Linked DNA regions of Homo sapiens. The protein of the gene in region 3 purifies or fractionates together with the protein of the main gene of each other region. This does not show direct contact. Each region holds a gene or a part of one and is shown on either strand. Other genes may lie near its edges. The genes, in order: PPP2R2C, MRC2 and KNG1.

Region 1 (3,650 bases), on a different chromosome or scaffold from region 3:
TGGCCCCTGCCTGTGAAACTACAGACGCACTGAGAAGGTGCATGAGCTGTCCACTGTGCATGGGGCTCAGACGCTCAAGTGAACACAGGGTAGCGTGCTGTGGGAGCCAATATGTGTAACCACAGACTCGCCTGCCACACGTACCCCTCTGCTCATTCCCAGGCTCCCCCGTCCCATCAGATTTCGCTTACAAAACACAGGATCCAAAGTGAAATTCTTAAAAATTTCAAGATAGTAACAGCAGAACATGAACCCAAGCACAGGTCCTTCTGAGTGTGGGGACCTAGATGACCACACAGGTTGCATATCCATGAAGCCAGCCCTGGAGCAAAGCCCTGGAAAATTCCTATAATCTCATGCCAAACTAGAAAAGTAGCCTTCAAAATTGTTGATACAGACAGATTACAGTTTTCATTAAAAACAGACATGGGCATTAAAAAAAGACTGGAAGGAAATACCCCAGTTGCTGAGAGTATGTCCCTCTGCTTGGTGGACTCACAGGAGTTCACTCTCCTTCTCTTACTCCCCATCACACTCTCCATGGAGCCTAGCGCTTCATACAGCGGCTCTTCCAGTCTCAAGGCCTAAACACTTCTTACCAAACATCCCTTAGCTCTGCAAGCTTTAAGGATAAACACTAAAAAGTGTAGCAAATGACAACAGTCAGGAGATGGAGTGGAAAAATTTTATTAGAATTTGATTTTCATCTTCCAGAAAGAAAATGAGAAAAACCGTGCTCTGTGACTGCGCCAAGCTTTAAGTTCGGGTTGATTAAAAAGAAAGGAGCACATTGCTTACAGCAGGGGCGTGGGAGTTGGCCTACACTACAATTTGGGGAAATTGACAGCAGTCGCCTTTTACACGTGTAGAACTTCAGAGTCCACATGCCCTTGGCTCCTTACAGCCTCATGACAACCCAGGGCACCAGGCAGTGCAGGGAAACTGAGGCTCAGAAAGTGATGTGATTTGATGGAGGGCACCCCAGCACTGAAATGGAGCCCACACTCGCTGTGAAGCCCAAGGGAAGCTTATGTAAGTGGCGTTTCCAAACAGAAGCGAAAGGAACACAGAATCTGAACAGTCCACATCTTGATTTTCAAAAGTCAAAGGCTGACTCTCCCTAATCTCCCTCTGTGCCACCACTAATGTCCCCCCTCTTAGCCTCAGTTTCCCCATAGGTTGGGGTGGAAGTTAGGCTAGCCAGTCTGATGACAGTTCTAAGGGCTAGTCTAACTCTGGCCCCTAAAGAATAGACATCATCACTTACTGATCTATTAAGAATAAACTGAGGCTCAGAGAGACCGTGTGACCTGCCCAATATTACAGACCCAGGGTCAGACCCCACCAGGAACCCAGATCTCCCGATGCCAGATCTCAGGCTCTCTTATCTGACCAAAAATACCTCCTCAATAGGACTGAGGAGGGAAAACCAGAAATTGGCAACCTTGACTTGAGTGAAATGAAAGAGGGTTCTCAAAACAGAAAGCAAACAAAAATCCCTCTGGGTTTTATGTATCTCGAGTCTTAGCTGTGGGTTACAGATCAGCCTCCTGGTTTTCTTGATAAGCAGTCAGGGCTGTACGAGTTGGGGTGCTATGGGCTGCAAGTAACGGAGACTTGAAAGTGCACAACGAAAAGGAAAAGTAACAGCTCATGTAACTGGAAGTTCAGAGGCGGCCTGGACATCAGGCCTCTATGTCCTGGATCTCACTCACTCTCTGCCCTGCCATCAACGGTGGTGGCCTAAGACTTGCTCCCCTCATGGTGTCAGATGGCTGCCAGCCACCACAAGGTTTCCCTGTTCCCATCACAAGAGAGGGACCAACTACCTGTGGTTCTCCCTACTTTCCACTCAACCTCCAGAACTGACTCCCACATCCATTCTGGAACCAGTCACTGCAAGGGGAATGAGATCATCCTTGCACTGATCACATCCAGCTATGGCCTGAGATCTCTTACTAGGAACCATATGTGTTCTCCTTGGAAGAAGAGAGACTAACTGTTGTGGAGATCAGCTGCAACGTCCACCATAAGGGTGCAGATTTCACTGAATGCTGAGTCTCCCACAAGCAGCATCCCCTCTTCAGTGTGGTTTCCTGGGCAGAAAGTAGATGGTATCCAGGGCACAACCAGTTCAAAACCTGCAGACAATTCCATGCAGGAAAACCTGCCTGCCTGCTGCGTTCAGACAGCCTCAGGACCCCATGATGACCTTAGCAATTCCCAAGCATCCTTCACTTCCTCAACTATAAAATCAGGACAACTCTGTGGGAATAAACAGACTACTCTGAAATCACACAGGACATCCAGGGATGGGAGTTAGGAAAACATGGGTACATCCTTTATGCAGATGCAAAAAGCATGAGTGTCCAACAGTGTGTGATGGCTGAGATGCTCAAACAAGGGGAAGCTGTGCCTCTGGCCTCAGCTGAAAAGTGTGCTCCGGAAGTGCCTTACCTGTCAGGCACATGAGAGTGACTGTTGCTCCCCAGAAAGACCCAGTCACTGCCAGGATCTACCTGGTCAGCCTGAACCACCTCCCCTTGGCTGAGCTCCTGTGTCTTGGTCATCACTGCTGCCCAGGGCAGGATGTGCTTGGCAAATGGTGCTAAGCAAAGGAAGGATGGATGGGTTTTGTAAGTTCAGTCTAGTCTGGAAGTGCTTATTCAACTCACTCTAAAGCTAAGTACTGAGGCCTGCCGCAAAAAGAGAAAGAACAGAGCCAGGAAGAGTCCTTCCTGGAACCATATCCAGCTCTTGAGAAATGTCTAACTAGATGGAGACTTCCTAGCACCCTCCAGGGTCCAGGGCCCAGGGCCCAGTGCCCTATCAGCTGCACTGCTCTCCCCACACCCTGACCCCATTCATGCAAAGTTCTCTGTGCCCCCAGGTGGCCTGCAGGTACACCTAATCATCACCATAACCCTCAATGCAGTTGAGCCCAGCCAAGAGTAAGCCACCCAGCCCTGCCACCAAAAAAAAAAAAAAAAAAAAAAAAAAAAATCCAACCTGCTCTGACGAATTCACACCAAGATGTGAATGACTAACAAAACCTAAACTCTTCCTAAGATGTTTGAGATTTTACAAGAGACTCAGGAACCCAAGCAGGGCTCCCACGGGCAAAGATGACATTGGACATGGGGCCCAAAGGATGAGAAAGAGTCAGTGGTGAGAAAGGCAGGAGGTGGGTATTCCAGGCAACAGCCATTGCAAACGCCCTGAAGCAAGAAAGAAAATGGCCTGCTCAAGGAACAGGAGGTAGATCAGAGCAGCTGGGGTGTGGTGGGGGAGTGTAGACTCAACCACAGGTAGAACAGGAGTTTGTGCACCTGGTTCTTCCGCAAACTGAATTTTAGCATCCACTGTTTGCCCACAGGCTCTTCCAGTTACAAGGCATATAAATAATAACAATGCCATGTGTTCAATGCCTCCAACAACCCAAGCACTGTGCTGGGCACTTTTGATATTAGCAAAATCACTGATCATCCCAGCAACCCTGTATGAAAGGTCGTTATTATTTCTCCCTTTACAAAGGGAAAGTGAAGCTCAGGAAGGTGTAGTAACTTGTCCAAGGCTGCACAGCAGTCAGGAGTCAGAGGCAGGACTTTAACATGATTCAAGTCTGACATTCTGACATTCAAATCTGTGAC
Region 2 (3,650 bases), on a different chromosome or scaffold from region 3:
GGTGTGAGTTGGGACTCAGAAACAGCCCCCTGGGAAGCTGGTGCTCCTGGCAGGGAAAAAAAGCCTGAGCAGAGTCCGGGTTGGGCAGTACTGGGAGCTATGGGAACGGTAAGGAGCTCAGCTTGACCTGCACAAGCACTGAGAAGGCCGGGAATTCTTTCTTTTTCTTTTCTTTTTTTTTTTTTTTGAGACACAGTCTTCCTCTTTTACCCAGGCTGGAGTGCAATGGCGTGATCTCAGCTCACTGCAACCTCCACCTCCAGGGTTCAAGTGATTCTCCTGCCTCAGCCTCCCGAGCTGCTGGGATTACAGGCATGTGCCACCATGCCCAGCTAATTTTTGTATTTTCAGGAGAGACAGGGTTTCACCATGTTGGCCAGACTAGTCTCGAACCCCTGACCTCAAGTGATCCACCTGCCTCAGCCTCCCAAAGTGCTGGGATTACAGGCATGCACCATCACACATGGCTGATTTTTGTATTTTTAGTAGAGACAGGGTTTCACTATTTTGTATTTTTGTATTTTTAGTAGAGACGGGGGTTTTACCTGGCCAGGCTGGTCTTGAACTCCTGACTTCAGGTGATCCGCCTGCCTCGGCCTCCCAAAGTGCTGGGATTACAGGCATGAGTCACCGAGCCTAGCAGAAATTCTAAATTCAGAAAGTTTACATCGATTCAAGCTTCCCCTTAGCAGCGCTAACCTGGCAGCAATGCCAGCTCTGGACTGAGGGTGGAAGGGAAGACCCTAAGGGAGGAAACTGTGGATGTAAATTACACCACAAAGGCCGGGGGAAGAGAGTTTTCAAAAGTGTCCATTGGTCCAGGTGCAGTGGTTTGTGCCTGTAATCCCAGCACTTTGGGAGGCCAAGGCAGAAGAATCGCATGAGCCCAGAAGTTCAAAGCCAGGCCTGGGCAACATAGTGAGACTCTGTCTTTAGTTAAAAAACAACGACAGGCCAGGTGCTGTGACTCACGCCTGTAATCGCAGCACTTGGGAGGCTGAGGCGGGCGGATCACGAGGTCAGGAGGTTGAGACCATCCTGGCTAACACGGTGAAACCCCGTCTCTACTAAAAATTCAAAAACAAAATTAGCCAGGCGTGGTGGTGAGTGCCTGTAATCCCAGCTACTCGGGAGGCTGAGGTGGGAGAATGGCGTGAACCTGGGAGGTGGAGCTTGCAGTGAGCCGAGATCCCGCCGCTGCACTCCAGCCTGGGCGACAGAGCGAGACTCCGTCTCAAAAAAAAAAAAAAAAAAAAAAAAATCAGAAGATTACCCAATGAACTACTACTAATCTTCATTGGGGAATCTTGGTTGGGAAGATTACCCACAGAATCTACCAGTGGTAGACTGTGGCCTGTGCTAGTGTGTAATCAGTGTAGTGTAAGGGAGTGGACTTCACATTTTTTTGCACTTACTTGTGTATGGTTTGAATGTTTTCCACTGAGCATGCATTTTTACTTTTTTTTTTTTTTGCGACAGGGTCTCACTCTGTTGCCCAGGTTGTGCAGTGGTGCAATCATAGCTCACTGCAGCCTCCAACTCCTGGGCTCAAGTAATCCTCCTGCCTCAGCCTCCTGAGTAGCTGAGACTACAGGCACGCACCACTGTGCCCAGCTAATTTAAAAAAAAAAAAATTGGCCGGGCGCGGTGGCTCACGCCTGTAATCCTAGCACTTTGGGAGGCCGAGGCAGGTGGATCACGAGGTCAGGAGATTGAGACCATCCTGGCTAACACAGTGAAACCCTGTCTCTACTAAAAACACAAAAAATTAGCCGGGCGTGGTGGCGGGCGCCTGTAGTCCCAGCTACTCGGGAGGCTGAGGCAGGAGAATTGCGTGAACCGGGGAGGCAGAGCTTGCAGTGAGTGGAGATCGTGCCACTGCACTCCAGCCTGGGCAACAGAGCGAGACTCCGTCTCAGAAAAAAAAAAAAAAATTCTAGACACAGGGTCTTGTTATGTTGCCCCAGCTGGTCTCAAACTCCTGGCCTCAAGCAGTCTCTCCTCCCGTGGCCTCCAAACGCACTGGAGTAACAGGCATGAGCCACCATGCCTGGCCCATTCTTACAATTGAGGCCAATGAACAGCATGCATGCTGCAAGGTGAGGCCTAAGAAAGGTCACTTAATTTAGTAATTAGGGAGCCTCATCAGTATGACCCTTGGGAGGCAGTCCCTCAGACAGTAGGCTAAAGGCAACTAGAGGCAAAAAGGGGAGAGGTATGCCCAACCATCCCAGTGTTCCCTAGTCTGTCTTGGTTTTATTCCAGAGTCCCAGGAAGCTCCTTATCCTTCCCTAAATGAAGGTTAAATAGAGAAGTGTAAGGATGAAGAGGAAGGTGATAAAGAGGATGGTGATAAATTGAGGGGCTTTAGGGGGTAGGACCATTGAGGGTGGGATTTTTTTTCTTTGGTATTTCTTTTACTTTCAGAAAAACTATGATTACTTTTTGGCACTTACAGTAGTTAGCAAAGTGTCACGAAGAAGTAATGCCTCTGATTGAGGCTATTTCTGAAAAAAAAAAAAAAAAAAAAAGAGAAAAATAGCAATGAAGTAACAGGTTCAGACCTGCTTCAATTTAAAAAAAAAACAATGGGGCTGGGCATGGTGGTGCACTTCTGTAATCCCAGCACTTTGGGAGGCCAAGGCGGGTGGATCGCCTGAGGTCAGGAGTTCAAGACCCGTCTGGCCAACATGGTAAAACCCCGTCTCCACTAAAACTACAAAAATTAGCTGGGCGTGGTGGCACGTGCCTGTAGTCCCAGCTACTTGGGAAGCTGAGGCAAGAGAATCGCCTGAACTCGGAAGGTGGAAGTTGTGGTGAGCCAAGATTGTGCCACTGCACTCCAGCCTGGGTGACAGAGGGAGACTCCGTCCTAAAAAAAAAAAAAAAAAAGTTGTATCAGAGGTGTTCAAACCAGAGCAACTCCATCTTTAAAAGGGGCTGGGTAAAACGAGGCTGGGAACTCCTGGGCTGCGTTCCCAAGAGGTTAGGCATTCTAAGCCACAGGATGACACCGGAGGTCAACACAAGACACAGGTCACAAAGACCTTGCTGAAAAAACAGCACGCAGTATAGAAGCCACCCAAATCCCACCAAAACTAAAAGGTGACAAAAGTGATCTCTGGGCTAGGCGTGGTGGCTCACGCCTGTAATCCCAGCACTTTGGGAGGCTGAGGCAGGCAGATCATGAGGTCAGGAGTTCAAGACCAGCCTGGTCAACATGGTAAAATCCCATCTCTACTAAAAGTACAAACATTAGCCACGTGTAGTGGCACATGCCTACAGTCCCAGCTACTTGGGAGGCTGAGGCAGGAGAATTGCTTGAACCTGGGAGGCAGAGGTTGCAGTGAGCCAAGACCACGCCATCGCACTTCAGCCTGGGCAACAGAGTGAGACTCCATCTCAAAAAAAAAAAATGACTTGTGGTCATTCTCACTGCCCATTTTTTTATACACTAATTATAACGCATTGGCATGCTAAAAGATACTCCTATCAGCGCCACGACAGTTTACAAATGTCATGGCAACGTCAAGAAATTACCTTATAGGGTCTAAAAAGGGAAGACTCCCTCAGTTCCGGGAATTGCCCACCCCTTTCCCAGAAAACTCATGAATAATCCACCCCTTGTTTAGCATATCATCAAGAAGTAA
Region 3 (4,272 bases):
AAGAAAAATTAGGTTTGTCCTCATGAACATGGCTCTACAGACTTTTTAAAAAAATAAAGTCTGAACAAGGAGCAGAGTGAATAGGCCGAATTTTTTTTTTTTTTTTTTTTTTTTGGACAGAGTTTTGCTCTTGTTGCCCAGGCTGGATTGCAATGGCGCAATCTCAGCTCACTGCAATCTCCACCTCCCGGGTTCCAGCAATTCTCCTGCCTCAGCTTCCCGAGCAACTAGGATTACAGGCATGTGCCACTACGCCCGGCTAATTTTGTATTTTTAGTGGAGATGGGGTTTCTCCATGTTGGTCAGGCTGGTCTCGAACTCCCGACCTCAGGTGATCCACCCATCTCAGCCTCCCAAAGTGCTGGGATTACAGGTGTGAGCCACCGTGCCTGGCCAATTTTTACTGGAGTAAGGATGTTGATACCATCAAGCCTCACACTTCTGCTGAGATTATCAACTGTAGTTTTCCAATGTTGGTCTACAGGTGGGGACCATTCTGTAATATAGTTTCCCCACTCTGTGTTGATGTGAGGAAAATAAGAATAATAAAGTTTTATTGCTGGCTTTGAGGGAGAAGGGTTCTATGACCCGCCTTGGGGAAGAGAAATTCTAGCTTCTGTGGCCTGCCTTGAGAGAAGTGGAGCAGGAGAAAGACGGGCAGGAGAAAGCAAGAAAGAGACTTTGCTTTTGCAGCCTTTTTAATGTCTTTCAGTTCAAAGTACTCGGCATGCCAAAGAGCCATATTTGGGGCTATCTTTTTCTGTGCCAAACCAACAACACCAAACCAGAAAGAAGCAAGCATAGGGAATCCAGGGCTTCACTCAACCCATCCCTTCCTATGCTTTTCCTCTATCTCCACCCTGGGAGCAATTTTCTTTTACAGAACTAATGCAACTGAGCAGAGAAAGGCTGGCCTGTCCAGAGAGCAGATAGGACGCCCATATTTTATTTTCAGTTGTGCCAATGTCCTGCATGGGACTCCTGGAACTCACTGGATGCCCCTGTGCATGAGCTTCTTAGGCATGTAATAGAATTAACAGCAGTCTGCTTCTATGCAGGTAGGTATCCTGCAAAGAAACTTTGTATGAAATGTGTCTGCACATTGTACTCATTCTTGCATTGTTTACCCATGTAGTGACCTTCAAAAATGGCTTTGCAAAAGTCACAGGGGAATAACCGAGTTAGTAGGCACTTGTTTCCCCTCCTTCATCAGATTCTGCTCTGATTTGCTACATAAAGTTGTATAATCACCTGGAAATATGCACTGTGCTGCCACGTGATTTTCAAATGCAAATGAGCAGGTTAACAACCCCAGTGTTGCAATGTTCTAGCTGTAAATATGTTTGGATAACCCAGCAGAGCCATTTAACCTTTGGGAACAAGGCAACTAGCGTCTGGCAGCAGGAATCCAACCAGTGCCCTGAGTTCTGAGGCAGAGAGGAGGACAGAAGAAACAAGAGGCTGGAGATTGTCAAATTCAGTATCCCAGTTGGCTCTTGATTCTTGGTGAAACCATCCCTCAGCTCCTAGAGGGAGATTGTTAGATCATGAAACTAATTACCATCCTTTTCCTCTGCTCCAGGCTGCTACTAAGTTTAACCCAGGAATCACAGTCCGAGGAAATTGACTGCAATGACAAGGATTTATTTAAAGCTGTGGATGCTGCTCTGAAGAAATATAACAGTCAAAACCAAAGTAACAACCAGTTTGTATTGTACCGCATAACTGAAGCCACTAAGACGGTGAGTGAATTGTGTTTAACCTTGAAGTCACTTGGGATTTGTACTATCACTAGGAGTCCAGGCCTCACACACACACACACATACCACCACCAGCACCCACCACCACCACCCACCACCCACCACCATCACCCACCACCACCACCACAACCACCACCACCACCCACCACCACCACCACCATCCACCACCACCCACCACCCACCACCACCCACCACCATCACCCACCACCCACCACCCACCACCACCCACCATCATCACCCACCACCACCCACCACCATCACCCACCACCCACCACCACTCGCCACCATCACCCACCACCATCACCCACCACCCACCACCCACCACCACCAACCACCACCATCCACCACCACCAACCACCACCCACCACCACTACCACCCCTCACCACCCACCACCACCGCCACCCACCACCCACCACCATCACCCACCACCACCACCATCCACCACCACCACCCAACCACCACCACCCACCACCCACCACCATCACCCACCACCCACCACCACCCACCACCCACCACCCACCACCATCACCCACCACCTACCACCCACCACCCACCACCACCACCACCCACCACCACCCACCACCCACCACCACCACCACCCACCACCACCCACCACCACTACCACCCCTCACCACCCACCACCACCGCCACCCACCACCCACCACCATCACGCACTACCAAATATGTGATCATCAAAGGTAGAAGCTTACAACTTGTGGAAAGACAGATACCACTCTCTGGCCTGGGGTGGGAGGACAGAGTATGACTCGTCCTCAGGCAGGTTGGCTTCCTGGATGATCAGAGAAGTAGAATCTAGGGTGAAATGAAACAAAAGTAGATGGAGAAATCTCAACAGGACCAAGTAGAGAGGGAGAATTTAGGAATTTAGTTAGACTGCAGCAAAAGAATTCACTGGGTCTCTGGCCCTAGGCTAAAAACTATAGAACTCCAAACCTTTAATGGGAGGGGGTACTTCATGGGGCATGTCTAAGAGGAGTGAGGAATGAGGTTAATGTGATTCTACGGAATTAGACAGAAGTCTGTATGGCTGAATGTACTGGGTTTAACAGCAACGTTTTAGTTAGTTTTTGATATTATTGCAATGATGCACTCCAGCAGGAGACAAATCCTGGCAGGATGCATGGTTCAAAGAAATACCAATCTTTCAAGAGTATGTTTAAACAAATTTCACTATAAAAGACTATATCTCTGGGAATGTCAAGCAATTGGTTACTTTAGCAGAAAAAAAAAAACTAGCCATGTGACAACATGGGGATAAAGGAAAATAAACACAGTGGACATGTTATTTTTTCTGAAAGTAAAATCGAGCCATTTTCTTTCATAATCTAGTACAGTCATGTGAGAAATTCTGCTTCATGGTGATCTCAAGCAACAGTTTATTGGTGGTGTGGTACCCAATAGATTGTGGGTATGGTTGTAAATATACTAAAAAACATTAAATTGTATGCCTTTAGTGGGTAAATTTTATGGCATGTAAATTATATCTCAATAAAGCTGTTTAAAAAAGAAAAAGTAGGAAACAAAATAAACCAAATAAAAGTACTAAAATCACCCATAATTAATTCCACCATACAGAGATAACTGTTAACATTTGTTTAAGGTTTTCTTGTTTGCTTTTTCTAATTTGTAAAAGTCATATACGTTCATTAGGGGAAAAAGACCACTTAGAAATGTTTGCTTGGGCCGGGCGCGGTGGCTCATGCCTGTAATCCCAGCACTTTGGGAGGCCAAGGCGGGGGGATCACGAAGTCAGGAGATCGAGACCATGGTGAAACTCAGTCTCTACTAAAAAATACAAAAAAGTAGCCAGGCGTGGTGGAGGGCGCCTGTAGTCCCAGCTACTCTGGAGGCTGAGGCAGGAGAATGGCGTGAACCCGGGAGGCAGAGCTTGCAGTGAGCCGAGATCACGCCACTGCACTCCAGCCTGGGCGACAGAGCGAGACTCCATCTCAAAAAAAAAAAAAAGAAATGTTTGCTTGAAGAAGAAAGTGAAAGATAATTATAATCTCACCACTGACAGACAAACATTTTAACAGCTTGCTGTGTATCTTTCCAGACTTTTAAAAGACATAGATTTATATATAAACCAGTTTTGACAAAAATGGGCTAATACTATGCATACTGCTTTGTAACCTTTAAAAGTACATTGTGAATATATTATAAACATTCTTTCACATAAATGTTTATGATAGAAATATAAATATATTTTAAGTGAATGCTTTGCTCTCAAGTCAAAGATCAATATTCCTAACTTTACCGGAACCCACTAGAATTATTTGCTGTTGGGTCAGTTGGATGAACCCTAAGTATCTTTGGCTGCTTTTCAGGTTGGCTCTGACACGTTTTATTCCTTCAAGTACGAAATCAAGGAGGGGGATTGTCCTGTTCAAAGTGGCAAAACCTGGCAGGACTGTGAGTACAAGGATGCTGCAAAAGCAGTAAGTGTATTGGCCATTCTTGGGCCTTCTGTTTTCTCCGTTGACCCTGCCA

What was found.
Region 1: the proteins of KNG1 (region 3) and PPP2R2C purify together in Homo sapiens (affinity purification with mass spectrometry; one large-scale study listed by BioGRID and IntAct). This does not show direct contact.
Region 2: the proteins of KNG1 (region 3) and MRC2 purify together in Homo sapiens (affinity purification with mass spectrometry; one large-scale study listed by BioGRID and IntAct). This does not show direct contact.

Annotation. Positions count from the first base shown.
Region 1 is NC_000004.12:6,466,104-6,469,753, forward strand, and holds part of PPP2R2C (protein phosphatase 2, regulatory subunit B, gamma), read right to left. Parts: intron 1-3,650. UniProt on the Homo sapiens protein: The B regulatory subunit might modulate substrate selectivity and catalytic activity, and might also direct the localization of the catalytic enzyme to a particular subcellular compartment.
Region 2 is NC_000017.11:62,634,073-62,637,722, reverse strand, and holds part of MRC2 (C-type mannose receptor 2 precursor), read right to left. Parts: intron 1-3,650. UniProt on the Homo sapiens protein: May play a role as endocytotic lectin receptor displaying calcium-dependent lectin activity. Internalizes glycosylated ligands from the extracellular space for release in an endosomal compartment via clathrin-mediated endocytosis.
Region 3 is NC_000003.12:186,715,996-186,720,267, forward strand, and holds the start of KNG1 (kininogen-1 isoform 1 precursor), read left to right. Parts: upstream 1-1,363; 5' UTR 1,364-1,547; coding exon 1,548-1,742; intron 1,743-4,109; coding exon 4,110-4,220; intron 4,221-4,272. UniProt on the Homo sapiens protein: Kininogens are inhibitors of thiol proteases.